Homo sapiens: one gene and its partners. The protein of the gene in region 2 purifies or fractionates together with the protein of the main gene of each other region. This does not show direct contact. Each region holds a gene or a part of one and is shown on either strand. Other genes may lie near its edges. The genes, in order: FCRL4, MUC15 and CDS1.

Region 1 (7,346 bases), on a different chromosome or scaffold from region 2:
TGTATTTTCAGTAGAGATGAGGTTTCACCATGTTGTCCAGGCTGGTCTTGAGCTCCTGACGTCAAGTGATCCACCCACCTCAGCCTCCCGAAGTGCTGGGATTACAGGCATGAGCCACTGTGCCCAGCCTCTGCAGACACTTTTTAAAAAGAAAATTCTGTCTTTAAAGGTTTGGACAGAATACTCTATGTCATCAGTGGGAATGGGGCTGTGTTTCTGCTGAAGAGAATAGAAAACCCTACCAGCTATATTCCTGGGAAGCACCTGGATGCAGGGCCATTGGGACTTAGGCAATAGGTCTTCTACTGGAGGGAAGGAGAGTTGATTTCCTTTGATGTATGCAACTAGACTCTTCTTTGCTCTGAGGAAGCTGCCCCTGCTATGTGCAGGTGGCCCTATGGCCAGGAAGGGACATAACTTTTCATGGCCTTCGTGTGTTTGAGACTGAGTTGATGGGCTCTGAGGTTAACCACATCCCTAGCTGCAGTTAATTCAAGGCACTTTTTGTATTTCATTTCCCCATTCTAGAACCATTAGCAAAGTCTGCCAAGTTATAATCTTGTCTCAGGAAGGGTGTGTGGGAAATAGTCTGTGTCCAAGGCACCGAGGAGGGGAAGAACAGCAGAGTTAGGAGCTGCAAGAGACAGTGCACCTCAAGGGGGCCAAGGCCCTTGCTGGCTCCAGCAGCTCCTAGGGTGCTCTATAGGAATGGCCAAAACACCTGTGAGGCAGCTGCCTATAGAGGATGGGACTTTTTGCTGACCAGTAGGATAGATGGAGACTCAGAGTCATCATAATTTGAGCTATTAACAGAGAAGTGTGTCTCCATGGGATGCAGAAGTTGGGGATAAATTTGTTACACATGGTTAGTGGAAAAGCTGCTGGAGCCCCAGCCTCCCCCTCTGAAGTATTGGCTTATTTCTACCCTTTTCCTCTTGGGATGCTATGCATTCCATCAGGCTTGGCTAGAATCCCACATCAGGCGGGGTGACAGCTCCTCTTCCTGTGGACGCTGTGACACATATCCCAGGCCCTGCCATGTTTAGCCAGCACAATGGCAGTTTTGGTTTAAGAGAGTCACCCCCAAATAGCCTGGTTCTTAGGGTCAGAGTCACCACACGAGCTGATGTCTCTACATCCCTGCAGCACTCAGGAAAAGGATGAAATGGACAACAGGGACTCTTGTAAGTATTTGAGATAAAATATAGTTATTAGGGTATCTAGAGACATAAAGGAGCAAAGAAAATAAGGACTTACCAGATTGTCCACAGACTGGAGCTGAAAGAGAGTAAAGAGCCAGCCATCAGCGTAGGCGAAGAGTCCCGAACTATTCACCCTGAGAGCCCATACACTCATATGCTACTTCCAACCAAGAGGAAGAGAAACACGTTCCATTCCATCCATCCCAGGGAAGCGGGGAAACACAGTGGCCAGACGCTCAGGCTGTGGACTCAGACAGTCTGGTTTGAATTTTAGCTGTATGACCCAGGGCAAACCACATGAACTTTCAAGTCTCAGTTTTCTCATTTGAAAAATGAGGCTCATGAAAGCGACCTCATAGTAATACTGTAATGAGTTAGATCAGTAAGGTTTCAATTAATGGCTGCTGTCATTAATTTTTTAGTATGGGGCTGCTGCTGATTCCTCTTCTCTTGACTCAGAACACTTATTATCATAGCTAATTTGGAACTCAAAATGAGACAGACAGTAGAGGGTAGTAGTTAAAAGCCTAGTTTCCAAAGTTAGATTATGGGTTCGAATCCTGACTCTGCCACTGTACTAGCTGCATAAACCTCAGGGACAAGACCAACATCTTTGTGCCTTCATTTCCTCATTTGTAAATGGGAGTTATAAAAGTTCCACCTGATCAAATGTTAGAGAATTGGATACATTTATACATGGGGTGCCCTTAGAAAAGTGGGATGTAGCCAGGGCTTAGCACAAATTAACTGACATCCTCACACATTATCCTGTAACTATTTGTGTAATATTTTTCTCATATTGTCGAGTCAGATGTTCTTGCATGTGTACGTTGAGGTTCTATTGAGAATGTCACCTCTTGAGGGCAGAATCTGTGTCCTTCAGGTCTCTGCATCCTCTGTGGTGCCCAGCAGTGTGGCATGCCAAGTATACCCATCCACTCACTCCTTAGTTCCTATCATGTGCCAATCACACTAATAGGTCTTCCCTTAGTTGGGGTCTGGGGATCAGGTGGGAACTAGACAAATACGCTTAATAAATATTTAATGAACAAAAGACTGACTGTTCTTTAATTCCCTAGTTTGAGCAACTAGGAAATCCGTGCCTCATTTGGACAAACACTGACAAGTGGTACAAAAGCAGGAAGAAAAAAATCAAAGGGAAATCATCTTATCTCTTCTCTTCTCATGCTCTTTGCAAACATCAGAACAGGTTTGAACTTAGAATACAGAGAAGGAAATAACTATTCTCAGCAGGTGATCCTTTCTACCTGAGTTCACAATCAGGACTTTATCCTTCACAAATAACTCAGTCCATCTTTTCCTCTGGGTCCTCATGCTCTGTGACGTAGGGACTGAACCTAGCCATAGGTTTCTTTTTGCATAAACAAAATAAGTCCATTTGGGGGTAAAATGATTTTCCATAGGCAATTCATAGCAAAAATAGATGAGAAATACATCTTTGGAAATCAATTATTATCATTTTCCCCTTCTACCAGTAAATCATTATCTTTCCTTTTTGTTCATTTTCTGCTGTTCTAAAATGGGAGTAAAAATCCATGATTGCAGCAGCAGAAAAGAGGGCTTTTGCTCATGGTGAGGCTCAGCTTTGCAGCAAGCAAAGGTCTCCTCCCCATCACTTACCAAAGGCCAGCAAGGACGCCCACAGCAGCATGGAAGCCTGCTCCAGGATTGGAGAAGGAGTTCTGAGGAGACAAGCCAGGTCAGCCCAGATTGCCAAAGCAGCACTTGCCTACACCAGCACCAGCAGTGAGCTCAGTAAGCTTCTTCTCTGCATAAAGCTGATTGAGATAATGAAGTGAAAGGGGGAAGTAGAGGAATCTTTCTGAAAACACCAAACAGCAATGTGGACCAGTGTGAGAGAATCCAGACCACAAAAATCAAAATTTAATAGAATTAAGTACTGCTGTGACATCCTGGGGTGAATCACTTCTCAAGGCTAAAGCTACTCTAGTTTCAGAACTCTCTAGGCTCTGTCTTTCAAGGAAATCACAACCTATTCTCTCTGCTACTAGAGATGAGGTGAGATTGCAGGCCTATTGAAATCCACATAATCTAAGGATGTCCCTGAATATCCCCAGAGATGAAGAATTTCTCATTCAACACAGAAAAGGCCTCCTCTGACCGCTGATACCTCTACTGGAACACCTCCAGCAGGCCGTCTGTAGACCTGATGAAACATCTCAATCACAAGACAACTCTCACCTTGTCTGATATATATGAAAATATCCTGACTCATCAGTCCAGGGGGAAACCACAACTTTTGATCTGAGTAGAAGGCAAGCTGAGGAGTAAATTATAGCCCCATCATGCTCTTCCTAGATAATAGGCCATAACATTTTTACTTAATGTCCTAGAATCCAAAATTTGCTACAGGAATGTCTTGGCAAATATATATTGATTGAAATACATATGCCTGGTATCTGGTGGCAGAGAGAAGAAGTTGTGATTTCCTTGAAAGACAAGAGGCTAGAGAGTTCTGAAAATATGATGGCTTTAGCCTTGAGAAGCGATTCACGTCAGGAAGTCAGAGTGGGTATTTAAATAATTCTATTAAATTTTGATTTTTGCCATTTGGATTCTTTCACACTGGGCAACATGCTGTTTGGTGTTTTGAGAAACACCTAATGCTCTCCCTACCCATAACAAACCTGCACACTCTGCTCATGTATCCCAGAACTTAAAAAAAAAATTAAGAAAAAAATGGAAAAATCCGTAGTGACGTTTTTTGGTACGTATAATATTTTGGTATGTATAACTCTTTAAAACTTTTTTATGCTATTATCTTGTGTATATGTATGTGTATATATATATATATATATATATATATATATATATATATATATAAAATGTTAATGGCAAAAAAAAAGAAACACCATGGTGCTTCAGGTATGGTGCCAGGTGCTGGAAGTACAGTGTTAATCAAGACTTGGAAAGCTTTCATTCTGGTGGAGAAGACAGCAAGTCAACAGGAAATTACATAGAAGTGAATTGTATGTAATTTCTGAGAGTCCACTAAGAGGGAAATCTGACCCAGTTCTGGGGATGCATAAGAGGCTTCCCTGAGGAAGTAACATCCAAGCTGAAAGAATATCATTCTAGGACTGAGAGATGAGCATGCACTAAGATGGAAGGCAGTTATCGTGACCATCACCATCACATCAAGATATCTGTGAATAGATAATAGACATAGGATGGATTAAGAGTGGTCTGTATTTTTCTAATATAATGTTTTTCTATATATCTGTAATAATTTATTTTCTAACTAGGGTTTGTATTGAACATCAACTATATTTTAGACAATGTCCATGGCCTTAGAAGAATAAAAAGGTGAATAAAGTGCATCTCTCTTAAAGACTTTAAAAAAGTCAATGTGGTAAGGGCCAGAGTAGACATAGACACAAGGAACCATAAAGACATAGAGCTGTCAAGGCGGCACATGGGTCCTTTGTCTCCTTGCCGTGTGACCGTGCTGTCATCTTTCAGCTGCCTTCATTTGTCCCAGGAGGAGCAAGGGTATAAAATGGCAGTCAAGAACCTGATCTGCAGAATCCCACACATCTGGATGAAATCTTGACTTCACCTCTTGCTAGTTGGGTGACTCTGGTCAAGTACTTAGCCTCTTTCACACTGGTAAAAAGGAGATAAAAATAATGTCCAGCTGAAGTGGATGTTGTTATTGATGTTTGTATGAATACATTAATGACATAGAACTCTCAGCTTAGTCCCTATGCTGAGAACTATTCTGTAATACTAGAAGTAACAAGTATAATGAACTAAAAAGCACTTTATAATTGACATAATATCCTACCAACATTTTTGTATTCCTTATAACACTGGAAAATAGTATTTAGCATGAGTTTAGAACTCCAATATTTATTGACTGACTAAGGATTGAGGGAAGTTGAAATCATATTGCCTGTTTTCTTGTTTCTACCATAAGTTTTGCTGAATGAATAGATTTCAATTAGCAAAATAAAATTTCACATTTATGATGTTATACAAGATGTCCAAACACAAAAATCATATTTATTTACAACTACTGTGTAAATGTTTAAGTTTACGTCAGTCAAGTACTATTTTTGTTGTGGTATTTAAGTCACTGACAGAAATATTTTAGTTATTGGTGCCAGAAGTGTGGTTAGTACTTTGAAACATCAGCCAGGAAGTACATATACCATGATTTATTAAGCAATTGCTTGACTAACCAGGAACTTTTAGATTTTATATTAACAAAGGACAAAAATAATTGTTTTCAATGAGAATGTAAGAAACTGAAATTTTTAAACTTTTCTAATTTTTTTTTGAAAAACATTTAAACCTTTACAGTTTAAAAAATAAATTTTCATTTTGGGGTAATTCTAGATTTATATAAAATAGTAAGGATAATACAAAGAGTTCCCATATAGGAAGCCCTCACCTGTTTCAATTTCCCCTACCGTTATCATTTCACATCATGGGGGTGCATTTATCAAAACTAAGAAACCAAGATTGCTACATTACTATTAATTACAGGCTTTATCCAGCTTTTTTCAGTTTTTCCATTGATACCTTTTTCCTCTTCTAGTATCCCTTCTAAGATACTACATTACATTTAGTTATCTTTGCTCCGTCTCTACATTACTATTAATTACAGGCTTTATCCAGCTTTTTTCAGTTTTTCCATTGATACCTTTTTCCTCTTCTAGTATCCCTTCTAAGATACTACATTACATTTAGTTATCTTTGCTCCGTCTCTACATTACTATTAATTACAGGCTTTATCCAGCTTGTTTCAGTTTTCCATTGACACCTTTTTCCTCTTCTAGTATCCCCTCTAAGATACTACATTACATTTAGCTATCTTTGCTCACAGACGTCTCTTCTCCATCTGTGAGTTTCTCAGTGTTTCCTTGTTTTTCATGACCTTGACAGTTTTGAGGAGTACTGGCTAGGTAGTTTGCGGCGTCTTTCAATCTGGGTTTGTCTGACGTTTTGGTCATAATTAAACTGGGGTTATGAGTTTTCACAAAGAATACTACAGCGGTAGAGTGTCCTTCTCATCACATTGGGGGTATGGAATCTCAACATGACTTATCACTGGTAATGTAAATTGTGATCACTTGGTTAAGGTAGTGTTTGCCAGGTTTCTTCGATGTAAAATTACTGTTTGTCTTTTTCTATATTCTTTCGTTTGGGAGCAAGTCCAGCCCACAGTCAGGGTGAGAGGTGAGGTAGGGGGATTTGTCTCCTTGTTCTTATTTACTTATTCATGTATTCATCCATTCAATCATTTATTTATATCACTATAGATTTGTATATTTACTTTAAACTTTGGTAACAATATAATGCTTTATATATTTTGTTGCTCAAATTGATCCAGCTTTGGTGATTGGGAGCTCTTTCAGGTCAGCTTCTTCTTTGTGCCTTTGAGAAACTCTCATCATTTTCCTTGTTGGAACATTTCTGTACTGTCTGGCACTACGAGATGCTCCTGGCTCATCTTACATTTTCCTGCCCCAACTCTAGAATCAGCCACTTCTTCAAGGAGCCCCAATTCCTTTCAGTAGAGACTGATATTTAGAAACCAAGATCTGAGTGCTGAGTATGGTCTTTACTACTACGGGAGAATCATACATTTTTAACTATGTGACAGGGAGTCTGTGGTCTTGTCAGTGCTTTATGGGTGGGAAAAATACTGGAAAGATAAATTTGTTGTTCTTGCTATTAAAAGACTCTTCTCCCAAATCAGTGGCTGTATACGTAATGATTTCTATAGCCATTTGTTAGTAATGGAGGAACAGCCGCTTGGAGTAATCAACTTTGAACTTCAAAGAAAAGGCAGTGAAGAAGCTCAATTACATTTATTTGTAGGCTGGTGCCATCTAGAAGCCGCATTTTATTTTCCATGACTACAGATAATAATATTTCTAGCCTTCAGTGGTAAAATATAATCTCCTTTTGTTTTAGAGACGTTTCCGAGATGATTTCTTGTTCTAAGTCGAGACTCTTCTATCTTCATGAACATACAGATCTTTTTGCTCAAAAACTTGTCCAAAGTGAGAACAGAATCGCAGGTTGTTAGTGCCCTCTATTCCAGATTCACAGATCCACAGTTATGTAGTAGAGGGTGTGAAATGGACACCA
Region 2 (7,132 bases):
TGAACCACCAAGGGGATCTCTCATTCCTTTACCCAGCTTTTGATTGTAACTTGAAAACCTAGGGTATCAACACCCCCAAACGTGCGAAGCACTCTGTTACTGCCTATAATTTATCTCCCAGGAAAAGGAGAGAAATGGAAGAGAGGGGTAGTTCAGTATGTTGTGAATACTATTAAATATTTATGGTTTATTCAGAAATTTATACACTACAGATAAGGCTTTTGTGAAGACGGATTGTCCTGACATTGCAGTAGGGACAAGTTTGCCTCTGCTGCCTGGCTTCTAGGAGAGCCAGGTTACGCCACTTACTCAGGTTCCTTTCATCTTAAAGTCGTAGAAGCAGCCAGGAATTGAAGTCATCCGTTATTCAGAACCCCACCATGAAATTTTGCTGGAGTAAGGTCCAGGAGATTTGGCCGAAGTTTGACCTCATGCCAACTGAACAAAGCACATTGCAAGTGACAGAAGCCTAATGGAGGTGGGACAGCAACTCCAGAGGGCAACAAATGAAATCTATATATGTTTTACTTTCGTGTGTGCTTTCCTTTTAGCCTCTCTCCATCTCTGGAGTTCAAATATCTAACTCTATGTTATATACTTGCTTTATAAAGCTGAAATGATGATGGATTATGGATGGTATCCCTGAGTGCACCCAAGTTCATCTGTCAGCCAGGTGCACTGTGGGGGCAGACAGAAGGTGGGATGAAAGAAAAGTAGAATTGCAGAGGGAGAGAAATCAGGAGAACCCAGTAATGATTTCACCTCCTGATCTTTGCCTCTTTTTGCATCTGGGTGGTAGCTCCTAAGAGAAATTTTGAAGTTATAAAATAGAGGTTTAGGATCATCACAAACTCGAAAACCTTCTAAAGGTAGAATTACTATAAAGTGAACAGAGAAAGAAAGGAGGATTTCCAGTTCCTTTGTGATACCTTAAATACAGATTCTAAACTTTCCTGTATATATTAACATTTTTTTTGTTTTAAAATTTAACTAGTTTTAAAATATATTTTCATAGTGTCACTGTTTTAGAACAACTCCTCTACAGAGGGAGAATGAACACGACTTTCGCCTTCTTTGTTACTGGCACTGGAAAGTGGTTTCACATTATTACTTTTGTATGGAGGGCTGCAGAAAGTGATGAGAAAAAACAAAAACAAAAAACACCTCTGGCCAGTAAGGGAAGCAAACCCACATTCACTGTCCATATTTTTGCTTCCTTTTAAATGCATAAAGTCATTATTCTGTCCAGGCTCTCTGTTGAAATCGTGGGTCATACTTATTTTATACCAAGCTTTGGAAATAAGGAGATGTCCTGGTTTATGTCAGGTAATTAACCCATATAAGGGCAAAGAAATGCTACTCATTCTAAACAGAATCAAAATCAGAAATTCTAAATAGAATCATCAGTTCAGGTATACTGCAGGCATAATATAAAAACATGTTTCTATAGTAAAATCACTGACGACTATACATTGGGCTGCCTTTTCTCCAAGTTGTGTTTGATCATTTCTTCTCACAGATGTTAGGCTACAAATTAAGACAGATGGGTTTTGTTTGTCTCTCAAAGAAAACTCTGTCTGCTATGTAGCTAACATCTCAGGAAGAACTTGAGTGTTACTCTGAGTGACTTTTTCCAATGTTGGACAGTATTTTTAGTTTCCTAAATTCAAGAGCAACAATAAATGAGGACATAAGACATCCTTCTAAAAATGCCTCTTTTATGAGAGGGTTTTGGAAGCGTAACCAACTAGAAAAAGGATTGTGACTGAGAAACTTAGGCCTCTCATTTTACTTTTATGTGATGTAAAAAGAAAGAAAAAATAAAAAAGAAAAGACTGGCTTTCTTTCAAGAAAAAAACAAATTTCAGAAGTTTGAGAACATTATTCTGGCTAAAAGACTTAGGCTATGTAACTACAGGAAAAATGTAGAGTTTGTCATATGACCTGCTACCTTGGGAGTTTTCAGTCATAAAATTCAGTACTTAACTAATTAGTGATGAGTGTCAAGCTTAGAAAGAAAGAAAGTTTCTCCGAAAGGAAAGTTCTAGATCAAAATTTTCAAGCATAGGGTTTCCAGCCTTCTGTATCATACTGTAATGTCTATAGGAGCAGCCTCTACAGACTAAATAGAAAGTAGATAAATGGAAATCAGCATCCTTTTAATAAAAAAAGAGGCTTATATAGCCACAAAATGAAAATAATTTTAAGAAATTTTACCACATTTTCATTTCATAGGATGTTTTCTGTAGTAACTGATGTAACCTTTTAGATTTCCAGTGAAAGTTAGACATGTACACATATCATGCTAAATAATTATATGTACTGTACAACAGTTTCCCAACTTTTTAATTAAGAAAATCTTTGAAAAAGATTTATAGAAGCTTCTAATCTATTTTATTAGAAGATTTTTTCCAAAACTATTCTAATACTTAAAGCAAAAACCTCTAATACTTAAAGCAAAAACCTTTCAGCACAAATGCATAATTTAAATCTAAGATTCAATTTATATTCATGCTGCCACTTCCACTTTAAACATTTTGAAACCTTTACTAAGATCTGACTTAAGAAAATTCTATTTCATAGTCACGTATGTTTTAAATAAGGCTTTTATTTAACTCTTCTGCTGGTTCTGTAATCTAGCAAATTTGGCAGTAATTTTTAAAGCTAACTCATTTAGGAGTGCAAATACTCATTTGGAAGGTCATTACTTAATAAAACAACTACTTGTCTCTGCAAGGATTGCCGTAGCTACTTGCCAGGCTGTTCTGTCAAAGTTGAGACCACTGCGATTCTCTTTGGTAAATAATCAAGGAAGAGAGAGAGTAGAGAGTGAAAGAGAGAAAGCGAGAGACCTAAGTGACCCAACGCACACTTACCTTCAGGCTTAGGAGGTATTTACAATCAGGAACTGAAATATCACAGTTGTCCTGTCTGAAAGGAATCTGTCGTGCATTAGAGAAAACAGATGGGTTAAGTGTGACAATGTCGCACTGAGCAGGAGGGTGCCAGGGAAACAAAATTAGGTGGGGCTGGCTGTATCTTGCTTGTGTAACAGAGCGCCCAGGAACCTGACTGACCTGCTTCTCAGCTGTAAGCATTAAGATATCACCTCATTCAGGCCTTTAACAACAACAACAAAAGCCCAACCCTCCAGTTTTCATAGGTTGATCGTTTTAGCTTTGGGACAAGGTATTACTCTCGTCAGTGGTAGCAAAACACGGGTCATCAATTTTTTTTTTCACCCTAAGTGAAAAAAAGGACAAAGATTTTGGCAAAGTCATCTGGTATAGCAGGAATTTCTGACATGTGCTGGGCCCCCTGCTCCTTGCAGGTGAGGAATCCAAACAAGTCATGCCCTGCACTTGTTGCTCTATGCCAGCCGCACATTCTCTGAAATCATAAACAATTTTTCTGTACTCTAGTAGATTGCCCTATTTGTGTACTTAAAGCCTAAGTAGAGAAAATGTAGTGGGGTCAGTAGTGAGGCGTCTATTCTGAGGTCCACTGAAATTGTTTTTTTAAGAAACTCCTACTTAACACAAAGTGAATTAGTAGCATATATTGGGATCCCTGAGAACGCTGTGAGGTGTTACATGAAAAATAATCATCATGACTGAGATTCGGTTTCTTGCTGACTTTCAGGAGTTTGGAGAGGAACTGGGGCCTGAGAATGGCCATGTGATCCTCACTTATCCTAGGAGCCTTCTCGATTAAGTAGTTTCCACCCTGTGTTCTCTCTGGTTTACTCTCACTTTAGAAGCTGGAGAATTTCAGAAGTGCCCAGGTAATGCTTGATTAAATACTAGAGTTGAATAACAACTTGGCATACTTCCTACACTTCCTTTCAGAGCTTATGAAAGGGAGAAGAGTGAAACTGGGATCTTCCGCACATCAGCGTTTGGGGATGGCGCCAAGGGCCGTTCAGCTCAATATGCCTGAGGTTCATACTTGGTTTCTGCTGCACAAGGAGATAGGTTTTCAACTGCTGAGCGAGAAACGAAACTTTAGCTAAAATGCAGGAGCTAGTAAGCTTCAAATGGAATGCAAAGAATCTGCCCAGTTAATTGGCCCGAGGAAAGAACAAGGTAATTCTATAGTTTTAAATTTTCTGAAGCCCAAAGGCCCCTTCAGAGTTTGATTAGAAATTAAACCAACCCCGAAAAAATATTGTCTCAAAAGATATTTAAGCTGTCTCTACTGTGGTACGAAGAAAAGCAGGTTAAATTTAATCAAACAGTTAGTTACTGAACAGTGGCTTAATAGAATTCAATGGCTTATTTTCAGATTAGCCACTTTTTAGGTAAAAATCCAACTAAATATATTTTCTGTTTGTAGTTAGAGAACTGAACATGATTGGGCAGGACTGGGTGCACCTTTTCCCTAGGCCTTTTCTGCAATATGTGTGGGAATATCATTATCCCCTTCTGCCTTAACCATAGTAATTATGGCTTATACCAGGCATAAACATTGCAATGCACTTTTGCTATAGCTCTCCGTTTTCACTGCCATAAAAGTCCCGCTAATTTCTCATGTTGCTTTTTCCTGAAGACCCTTTCTGTGGGCCCAGAATCCTATTCATCATTGCCCTCCTTACAATCATAATCAATTGATTAGACCTCACCCTAGAGATAAACCTTACCTACCCTCACTGTCTTGAGCACATCTGGAAATAAACTTATAAAATGTAAACTGTACGTAAATTTAATGCCTCAGTTGTTACTTAGCTCACTTAGTTGTTATCAGAAACCTTTGTTTACTCATGGAGTTGGAGTTAAAAAGTAATTTCTAGCCAAACAAACAAGTTTCACTGAGATACAGTCCTAGGTTCTAGGTAAGACCAATCCCACTTTAGACCTCCTTTCTCCAGAGGAACTCCACAATGAGAGATAATTACCTGCAATTTCATCAGCAAACCCAGCTGAGATGACACACTGTGCAGTGCTTGTATAATTTTTTTTGGTACTTACCCACTATGGTGCCTTTCATCTGGCACTCACCAATTGCTTTACACTCATTAATTACGTTTCACAATACATACTGGGAGGAAGAAAAACCTCTTCCTAGTCTGCAATGATAGAACCACTCACAAGTGGAGTTTCCAGAACACGAAGACACATGAATATCACTAATGGATCTGAATACAGAAGCAGACATAGCTTGGGACCACACTTCAAACTAATTGAAAACATTGTTTTGAATCCAAAAGAGTATCTTTTTGTACAAATCCTATAGCATCAAATCTTGATGCTGATGTCACATGTAGGGAATTTGCATTGATCAGATTCACTGATAGCATATTTAGTCTGATACAGGCTACAAGTGGAATTCATGTTTGTTTCCCCATAGGGACATAGGTACTTTAAGCAAATAAGAAATATTTGAATAATAGTAAAATAAATTACATTATGAATCTATTATTTGAGAGTATTTTAATGATATTCTTTATAAATAAAATAGAATTTAACGGCTGGGAAATGTATTTGGGGATAACATTTAATTTATTTCAATATTCTATTAGGATAGAAATAGAGGGATTATTCTCATAAATGCTAATGGTTGTTTATTATTCAAGTTTATCTTTCTCTGGTAAGTAATATGGTGCTATAATAAGATCTTCTTCACTTAACTATAACTTTTTGGAAAGGTCAAATATTCCATTTTGGGGTTAAGGAAATTCTAGGACAATGCCCTTGGTTAAGCAGAGGTTATGATATTGCATATACATATATGCAAGTATACATACTTGCATGCATACATACATAAATGGTGAGCTAAAGAAAGTTGTAAACCTGGTCAATCAACTAAAAATAACTTTAAAGGATAGATCTTTATGTGATTTGGGGCATTTAATTCGACCATAGTTAAAAGAATTGAATGATAAGACTATAGCAAAACCTGTTGCATTTCTATCTATATATTTATGTGAACCTGTTTTCTTAGTAAACATTTTGAAATATAAAATATATAATTGAAAATACCATATTGTAACAATATAAAATATGAATTGAAAAACAAACACAAACCCTATTGATATCCTTAAGAATATAACAGTCTTAGATTTTGCATTTAATATTCATTAAAATTTAAAATTGATTATATTGTTTTATTACTTCTGATGATTACTCAATTCTAATTGTTTTTTAAGGTAAGAGCCTAATGGTCACAAGAAATTTTAAAAATTTAAACAATTGCTATCTCATTTTTAAAATTATTTTAGAGTACTATGCAAGATAATCAACACTTTCAAACATAAATATATATTAGAAATATTTTGAAGTAGAAATTGGATGGAAATAGATTTAAAGATAAAATGAACAATTTAAATTTTGCAACAGATTAGTGCTTTTTAAAGGTATATTTTTAAAGAGACACAATTAGGTATAAAATACTAGTATAAATTTATTTTAAAATGTCCATTTTTATAAAGCACTGGAAATCATAACCTTTACGACTATTTAAATATATAATGGAAAGAAATTTTGTACAAGGAGATAAATAATTTCACAAAATTATTTTAGCGATTACACAATCATTTTCAAAACCACTGACATTGTGCAGCTATTAAATTCAGAGTAGTAAATCAGACATTTTCAATAATTTCTATGTGATGGCTAATAGTACTTGAAGCTGTTCATAGGTTTAAAATATTTTCTTGGGTATTTTTCTGTATTATTTAGGGTCTCACATAGTGTCCACTATATCTTTTTATCTTCCCTTCCAGTTCTAGCCAAACAAAAACAAAAAAGGTAGAGGATAGCGTTGTTACAAGATGATGGAAACATTTAAAAAATAAACAATACTTTCTTCAGAATGATACTTTTGCTGACGTGATCATAGTCCGCACATGTTAGCAGAAAGACTTTGTCGCTCAGGTGGCCCCATGAAATCTTTATTCAGTGTTAGCACTCTGGGGCTCTGTCTCTGGCTAGATTCTCCAGATTTATAATCACCAAGGAAGCAGTGTGCTGAGTAGAACAAGCTCAGGCTACCACGTCACAGTTTCTTTGTTTTGAATCCTGGTTTTGCCACTTAATGGTTTCATAACCTTGGATAATTGCCATCACGTTTCCAAGAATATTTTCTCATTTGTACAATAAAGAAAGTGACACTACTTCTTAGTTGTGTGTGGAGT
Region 3 (7,065 bases), on a different chromosome or scaffold from region 2:
TGTAAAGTGTTATGTAAAGAATTATTACTTAAATTATGAAGGAACATGTCATTTAGGATATAGCTTCAGCTGTGTTTGATGAAAATGTTGCTGAAAGCAAATTAGGTCACAGCTAGATTCAAGCTATGATTCAAGCTAGGTTCAAGCTATGACTCAAACCCAGGGTTCTTGGTATAGAAACTCCATACTTCTAACTACACCATAGCACTCTCTCCTCTGATACTCTCTCACTACAATACTTGATAGTACACCATTATTTTCCCGTGCAATTCCATTAAAAATAAAAATGTAAATATAAGTTGTTTTTCAAGATTTTCCCATAAAATGTTTCTCTGGTGGCCTAAATCAGAAATTCCTACCTCTAACTTATAAACAAAGCTGACAGAGGGCAACAGAGAAAGATAGGTCAAGCGACAAAAGCTGTTACTTGGGTATCTAAGCAACTGGAAACGCTTGGCTGAGGAAGATTTCTTCCGCCCCTGGCAAGCTGGGGACATTCCAGCAGGGCACCTTTGAGCCTCTGATGTGAAAAGCAGCTCAGATTCACATTCCCACCCCAGAGGGGCATGTTTATCAGTCTGGGAACATTCTGAGGGTATTCAGGGAAGAGTGGTAACAAACTGCTTCATCTACTCTCACTACTTCAGGCAACGTCTCTGCATCTTATGCTCTTATTACTTCCAGCAAAAGAGAAGGTAAACAGTAATCTAAAATAAAAACCATATAAGCAATAACGTTAGCACTCTCTCTCATCTCTCTAGCAAATTCCTCATTAGGAGTTAGAAGGTGAAAAAAAATTTTTTTTAAAATTTTTTTTTTAATTTTTTTGAGATAGGGTCTCACTCTGTCACCCAGGCTAGAGTGCAGTAGAGTGAACAGGGGTCACAGAGGCCTCGAACTCCCAGGCCCAAGCAATCCACCCGCCTCAGCTTTCCAAGTAGCTGGGACTACAGGCACACGCCACCATGCCCAGCTAATTTTTAAATTTTTGTGTAGAGATGGGGTCTCCATATGTTGCCCAGGCTGGTCTTGAACTTCTGGGCTCAAGAGACATTCATGCATCAGCCTCCTAAAGTGCTGGAATTACAGATGTGAGCCACCACGCCCGGCTGGAAAATCTTAAAATCAATCCAAGAAGTGCTGGCTGGGTTGTACTACGTGATTAGGCCCATGCATATGCTTAGGGTTTCCATGAAGCCCTTCAGCAGGATAAATACAAGAAAAATTAACAGGTAAAGCCTTAGAAACCATTACACGCCAGATTTTGTGTTACCAAACACAAATACAATAAATTTAGAGAACATAAGTTCCCTGAATGAAAACGAAAGATAAAAATAAAAAAGAAAGAAAAAGGAAAAATTAGAAAAAAGACATAGAAAAAGTCTGAGAACACAGAGTTCCGTAAGCCAGTTGTGGTTGAGTATATTGTACAGTATCTTAAGTAAAATAAAGTCATTACTACAACCACTTTTAATAAGTATTAAAATCAACTTCTCTCTGATATAAAGTGAAAATGAAGAAAAGTGTCTATGTAAGTCTAAAATAGACTTTAAATGAAGAAACCATAAATACTATACATTCATGGGTTGCATAACAATGTTTCAGTCAACAATGGACCACATATACCACTGTAGCCTATAAGATTATAATACCATATTTTTATAGTACCTTTTCTATGTTTAGATACACAAATACTTACCATTGTGTTACAGTTGTCTAAGTAATAGGCTATACCATGTAGCCTGGGTGTGCAGTAGGCTATGCCATCTAGGTTTAGTATACCCTGTGATGTTGCCCAATGATGCATTTCTAAGAATGTATCCCCACTGTTAAACAACATATGACTGTATAAATTTCCCTTGTTGTGCTATACCTTTGCCATCCCATCATTTCTTCATTCACCTCTTCAGCAAACATTGTTACCTATAGAAGGGTGGTTTTTGGCACTGTGGAAAGAGCTAGACCTGTAAAGATGAATAAGCCAGTTTCTGCTGTCTGGACTCAGTCTATTCACTCAACTAGTGGTAATAGCTATAATGAAGAAGATTGAAAGAAATTGCTCTCTTAGCTAAAACACAAGAAGGAGCAGAGCTTAAGGAAGGTGAGGTAAGTAGAACCTCACATTCTATTTTGGCAGTCTTTGCATTGGTCCCACTTTTCCTGGGTTGGGGAATACTGTTTCTTCTATCACGCACTACTGTCCTCTGTTGTTCCCCTCTGTCACTCCTCTCACTCTCTTTTTTCCTCCTGCAGCAAAGGGAAAAAGTCAAAGAGGCCATGAGAGGACTAGGCAAAGGGGAAACAGGAAGTTGTTCAGGTACCTTGTGTAGTAGGTCTCCTTTTCTTGGACCATGGGGGAAAGCAAAGGCTGGATTCTGATCGTCTAAGAGCTAAAAGGGACCACAGAGGCCATCCTTACTATCCGTTTACAGCTGAGGACACTGAGGGTTAATAACTTACCAAGGCCATGCAATTAGTGGCATTGGCAGCACTAGAACTCAGGCTTCTTGACTTCCAGAGAGTTAGAATGGAGCACTTCTAATCCTTTATGCAGGGTAGGGTAGTAGCCAGAGATGGAAACCCTACTACTGGCTTCAGCCATTATTCTGATTATCTTCTTCACTATCAAGCACTCCTTCATTTCCGATCCTCCAAACAATTGGACAATTTATTAATGTAGTCACCCCATAGTTCTCTGTTCAGTAGGGACTTATTTTCAAATCTTCTCTGTCATTTCAGTTATCCACCCCATAAGGAACAAATTATGGTTTCTCGACATCCTTTTGAAAACGTGCAACCCAAACTAACCGCACAGCTTCAAAGATCTGTTTGGTGAGGTAAAATGATGTCTTTGTGTTCTGCTTTTCAATGCATCCTAATTTGACTTTTGGTTTTGCTCATTTGTTAGTAAATTTTCAACACTTTACTTACTTTTACCGTGTCAGTAAAGACCTTGAGGAATTTACATAGTTGATCTATTTCTATAAGGGTGCTCTCCTGAACCTTGTCCTGTGTGAAGGCCCGCCTTTTTTCTTTTTTCTCTTTGTTTCTCTCTTTTTTTCATTTGTTAGCTTGTCAGTAATGACCGGGTGGCGGATACATGTCAAGAAAACTAATCACCTTCTAACAGGATTAAGACTAGAATTAATGCAGATCTTGTGCCCTTCCTGTTCCCGCTTTGGCAGCCCAAGGTCCACCACTGCTCAGAGACTAGCTGGAGGGCAACGGCGTCCCATAGCATCTCACACTGTGTTGGGATCCTAGGTGGTGACCTTTGTGAGATTCAGTACTGAGTTTCTGGGAGACGGCGCTGCGGTTGTGATCGGAATTGTTGGCCGACGCACCTCTGGACGCCCAGTGAGGCAAAAGCATCTCCTGTTTTCAAGGTGATGACACTGGGCTGGAATGCCGCGGGGCCAACCAGTCCGTCCTGCCAGACAAGTTTCTGGTCCAGTGAGCCTCCGACCCGCCGCGCGTGTCAAGCTGACAAGGCCGGGGAGGCGTTTGAAGCAGCAGTGTTGAGCGCTGTTAACATTTAGCGGGCGTCTTTGAGTAGCTCCTCCAGCCCTCGCAGCGGCCCAGGGACTAGCCTGCAAGTTCTCAACGCTCACTTCCAGCCCGCGCTGGCCCCGCCTCCGCCTCCCAGCTCCTCAGCCTCCTCCCGCCCCACCGCTCCCACCTTTTCTCAGGCCCCCACCTGCCAGCACGCAGAGGCGGGGGCGGGGTCGCGGGCCGGGCTCCTGACGTCACCTCACGGGGAGGCGGGGCTGTGGGAACCGCAGTGCAGCGCAGAGGGGCGGGGCCTGCGGCGCGAGACCTGGTGCGGGAGGCCCGGGCAGGGAGAAGTGTGCGGGGCCGGGACAAGCCGGCTCCGAGTCCGGCTCCGGGGGGCGGGGCGGGAGGGGCCTGCGCGGCGGCGGGAGCCCAGAGCCGCGCTAAAGCGGGTCAAGCGTCCTCCTTTTCTCCCCGCCCCTTCTCCTCCTCCTACCTGGGCCTCTGCGTGGAGACGCGCACCTGGCAACCGGAGGCCGCGTCTCCGCCTTCTCTGCTCGCGCCTGGCGCCCGGAGCCTGCCCGGGACCTCCGCCGGAGCCGCGCTCGCTGCAGGCGGCCTCGAGCGCTCTCTCGTTGATGCCGTTTTGGAGGTGACCGGCGCGGCGGCCGCTCTATGGTGGGGCCGCGTTAGTGGCTGCGGCTCCGCGGGACTCCAGGGCGCGGCTGCGAGGTGGCGGGGCGCCCCGCCTGCAGAACCCTGCTTGCAGCTCAGGTTTCGGGGTGCTTGAGGAGGCCGCCACGGCAGCGCGGGAGCGGAAGATGTTGGAGCTGAGGCACCGGGGAAGCTGCCCCGGCCCCAGGGAAGCGGTGTCGCCGCCACACCGCGAGGGAGAGGCGGCCGGCGGCGACCACGAAACCGAGAGCACCAGCGACAAAGTAAGTGGAGCCGAGAGAGGCGGACGCCGCGCCCTGGCTGGGTCCTGGTTGGAAGCGGGACACTTGAGAGCAAGGGTGGGGCCCGTCCAGCGTCAGGTGAGGCTGCACGCTGCCGGTGCACCTTCCTCCCTGCCTGGCACTGCTTCCTCCTTCTCCAGAGGGGGTCGGGACCCGGGATCCCAGTGGCGGTGAGGTTCCCAGGATGACCGCGGCCGCTGCCCGGGAGAAATGGGCCACTCAACCCGGCTTACAGTTTAGCTTCATCCTCTTCCGGTCCCTTCTTCAGGATCTGGGGCCGACGCTGGAATCAGGAGGGAACCTGTCCTCCTAGGGGCTGCAGTGCAGTTAGTAGCTGCCACCTCACCTCTCTTTTCAGTAGAGGGAACAAAGTTAGTAAGGACTAGAGACGTGCCACCGTCGGCTGTATCATTTCATCGGATCCTGACGCGGGAGGCTTGGCTTCTCGCGCTGCCCCATATGCACTTACATTTTCTCCATCCTTTTTCAGTATGATAGATTTTGGAGGTTTTAGAGTATCATGCACGTGACATAATAGTAATCTTCCAGCTTCTTTTGAGTACACGACAGACAGTGCAATTCTTCTGTCTACCAGTAGATTTCATATAACCCGACGTTAATTCATGAAGACTTTTCACTTCCTTTTCTATAGATTACTCTTCTTTCACATTTAAGAATAAGTAGATGCGATATTACTATCTGTTTAAAGCTAGAAAAGGAATTCGGGCGTGTTTGGTAATATAGTGGTGCAAGTAAGAACTTGTGAAGAAATGCAGTTTTATGATCTTATGGACTGGATGGTTTGGGAAATTGGACCAGAGAATAGATTGTTGTATCAAACCGTCTGTTTAGAAAATTCCATTTTATTTGAGAAACCCAAAACACGTAAACTGTTTCTAGAAGCATACTTTGGAAGCAGGCATTGCAGTTTGAATTACAGAAGTGAGGTGGATTGCCCAAGGTCAAGTTCGTGGCTCTTGAAACTAGAATCTAAGTTTCCTGATTCCTTTTCTTCTGGTTTATGTGGTTGCTGAGACTGGCTGGCAGTTCTGATTTGGGGAGGATTCCACCTGAAAGTTGATGTTGATGAGTTTGATGTAACCCAAATTACAAAGCCCTAATAGGAACATATCACATGATATCACGAAATAAACGTAAACGTGATTCTTAGTACTAAAACTTTAGAATCAATGGAATCAATGTAGTGACACTTTTCCCCTTACCCTTGATAGTAAGTAGAATAAAATGAGTCTGTAATAAAACATAAGTGTCAAGGAATTACCCAAAATATAACAATTTCCAGCTACTGAAGGTTGAAGTTACAAAACTAGGAACAGTGGGCTGAGAATAGTCTTTGTGAAAACTGCCTTGGAAACTAGACCCAAAATAGAATTAATTAGGTTGGGATTTGTTTTGTTTTGTTTTTAGCACTGGTATAGTTTAGCATCAAGGAAATACCAGCTTCTCTATGCTGACTTCCTTAACTCGACAAAGCTAACAAGCTTTTGTTAAGAGAAAAGATGTTCAGGAAGCCATGCATAAAATACCTTCGGAATTAAGTTTTTTCTTTTTTTAACACCATAATGTATTTAAAATGGAAACTACTTCTGTAGTGTGATTTGACTCATTAGAACTGTTGTCTCTAGCTATCTGTGACTAGGTTACCTCGCTGCATATTTATTTATTTATCAATGCAGTACTGTTGGTTTTTATTGACACATGTCCAGCTGGATTTTGTTTTCTGAAAGTAGACTTTGCTATATGTAACCTGTTTTGTCAAGATTTCTTAGACAAGGATGAACATATTCAAACCATATCTAAAATACTGCTCTACTTTTAGAGTTTATCATGAGGAACTTTTGACTTGGCAAGCTGATAGATATTGAACTCTATCCCTGTCTGTCCTTTCTTATCAGGGTGTGTATTTGAATACACCTGTATTTCCAGGTCAAGGGCTATTTTAAAATCAGTTTGCACACTGGAGGCTGGTTAATATTTGGTCAATTCAAACTCATTAAGGGCCTTCCCTGTTCAGTTGCAGTAAAGGCAAAACTCTTGGGGAATTAGTGAAAGAAGTGAAGGAGGTACATTATATTCTGCTATTATAATACACTCCCATGCATTGCCATTTTGTAGTCTTTTAATAATGGTGTTATTAACATGACACTCCCTTTGTTCCGGACTGGTGACTTATGCTGAGAGAAGGCTCTGTACTCCAGATAATTAGCAAGTGAAAAAAATACTTCTTACCTGCAGAGGAATGTTCCCAAGTGTTAAATGTTGGAGTGGTACTTGAAAAATGACAAGGGACATCTTCAAGGAACCCTGCAGGAGACATATATGAGTTAGATTTATTGGAAGTCTGTACAAGGCTCATTGTTAGCATAGAGGGCATGCTTGGCGTCTACCTGGAGACTGTAGGAAAAGCTCTAAACAGTGGATGAGGATTGAGCTGGGAATGAAAAGATTCCTGGGACTCACCAGGTTTACAAGGGTTTGGGTAGGGTGTTCTAGGCAAAGGACGTGTTGGGTTTTTTCTTGAATCAGCATTCTAGGCACAGGGTTGCAGATACAGAGGAAGAGATAATGAAGGTCCTGAGAGCAAAAGGAGGAGGCA

Evidence for each region.
Region 1: the proteins of MUC15 (region 2) and FCRL4 purify together in Homo sapiens (affinity purification with mass spectrometry; 3 studies listed by BioGRID and IntAct, with this or other methods). This does not show direct contact.
Region 3: the proteins of MUC15 (region 2) and CDS1 purify together in Homo sapiens (affinity purification with mass spectrometry; 3 studies listed by BioGRID and IntAct, with this or other methods). This does not show direct contact.

What each region holds. Positions count from the first base shown.
Region 1 is NC_000001.11:157,595,071-157,602,416, forward strand, and holds the start of FCRL4 (Fc receptor-like protein 4 precursor), read right to left. Parts: upstream 3,016-7,346; 5' UTR 2,875-3,015; coding exon 2,844-2,874; intron 1,279-2,843; coding exon 1,258-1,278; intron 1-1,257. UniProt on the Homo sapiens protein: May function as an inhibitor of the B-cell receptor signaling. May function in the B-cell-mediated immune response.
Region 2 is NC_000011.10:26,569,165-26,576,296, forward strand, and holds the start of MUC15 (mucin-15), read right to left. Parts: upstream 3,100-7,132; 5' UTR 2,877-3,099; intron 1-2,876. UniProt on the Homo sapiens protein: May play a role in the cell adhesion to the extracellular matrix.
Region 3 is NC_000004.12:84,579,089-84,586,153, forward strand, and holds the start of CDS1 (phosphatidate cytidylyltransferase 1), read left to right. Parts: upstream 1-4,038; 5' UTR 4,039-4,313; coding exon 4,314-4,430; intron 4,431-7,065. UniProt on the Homo sapiens protein: Catalyzes the conversion of phosphatidic acid (PA) to CDP-diacylglycerol (CDP-DAG), an essential intermediate in the synthesis of phosphatidylglycerol, cardiolipin and phosphatidylinositol.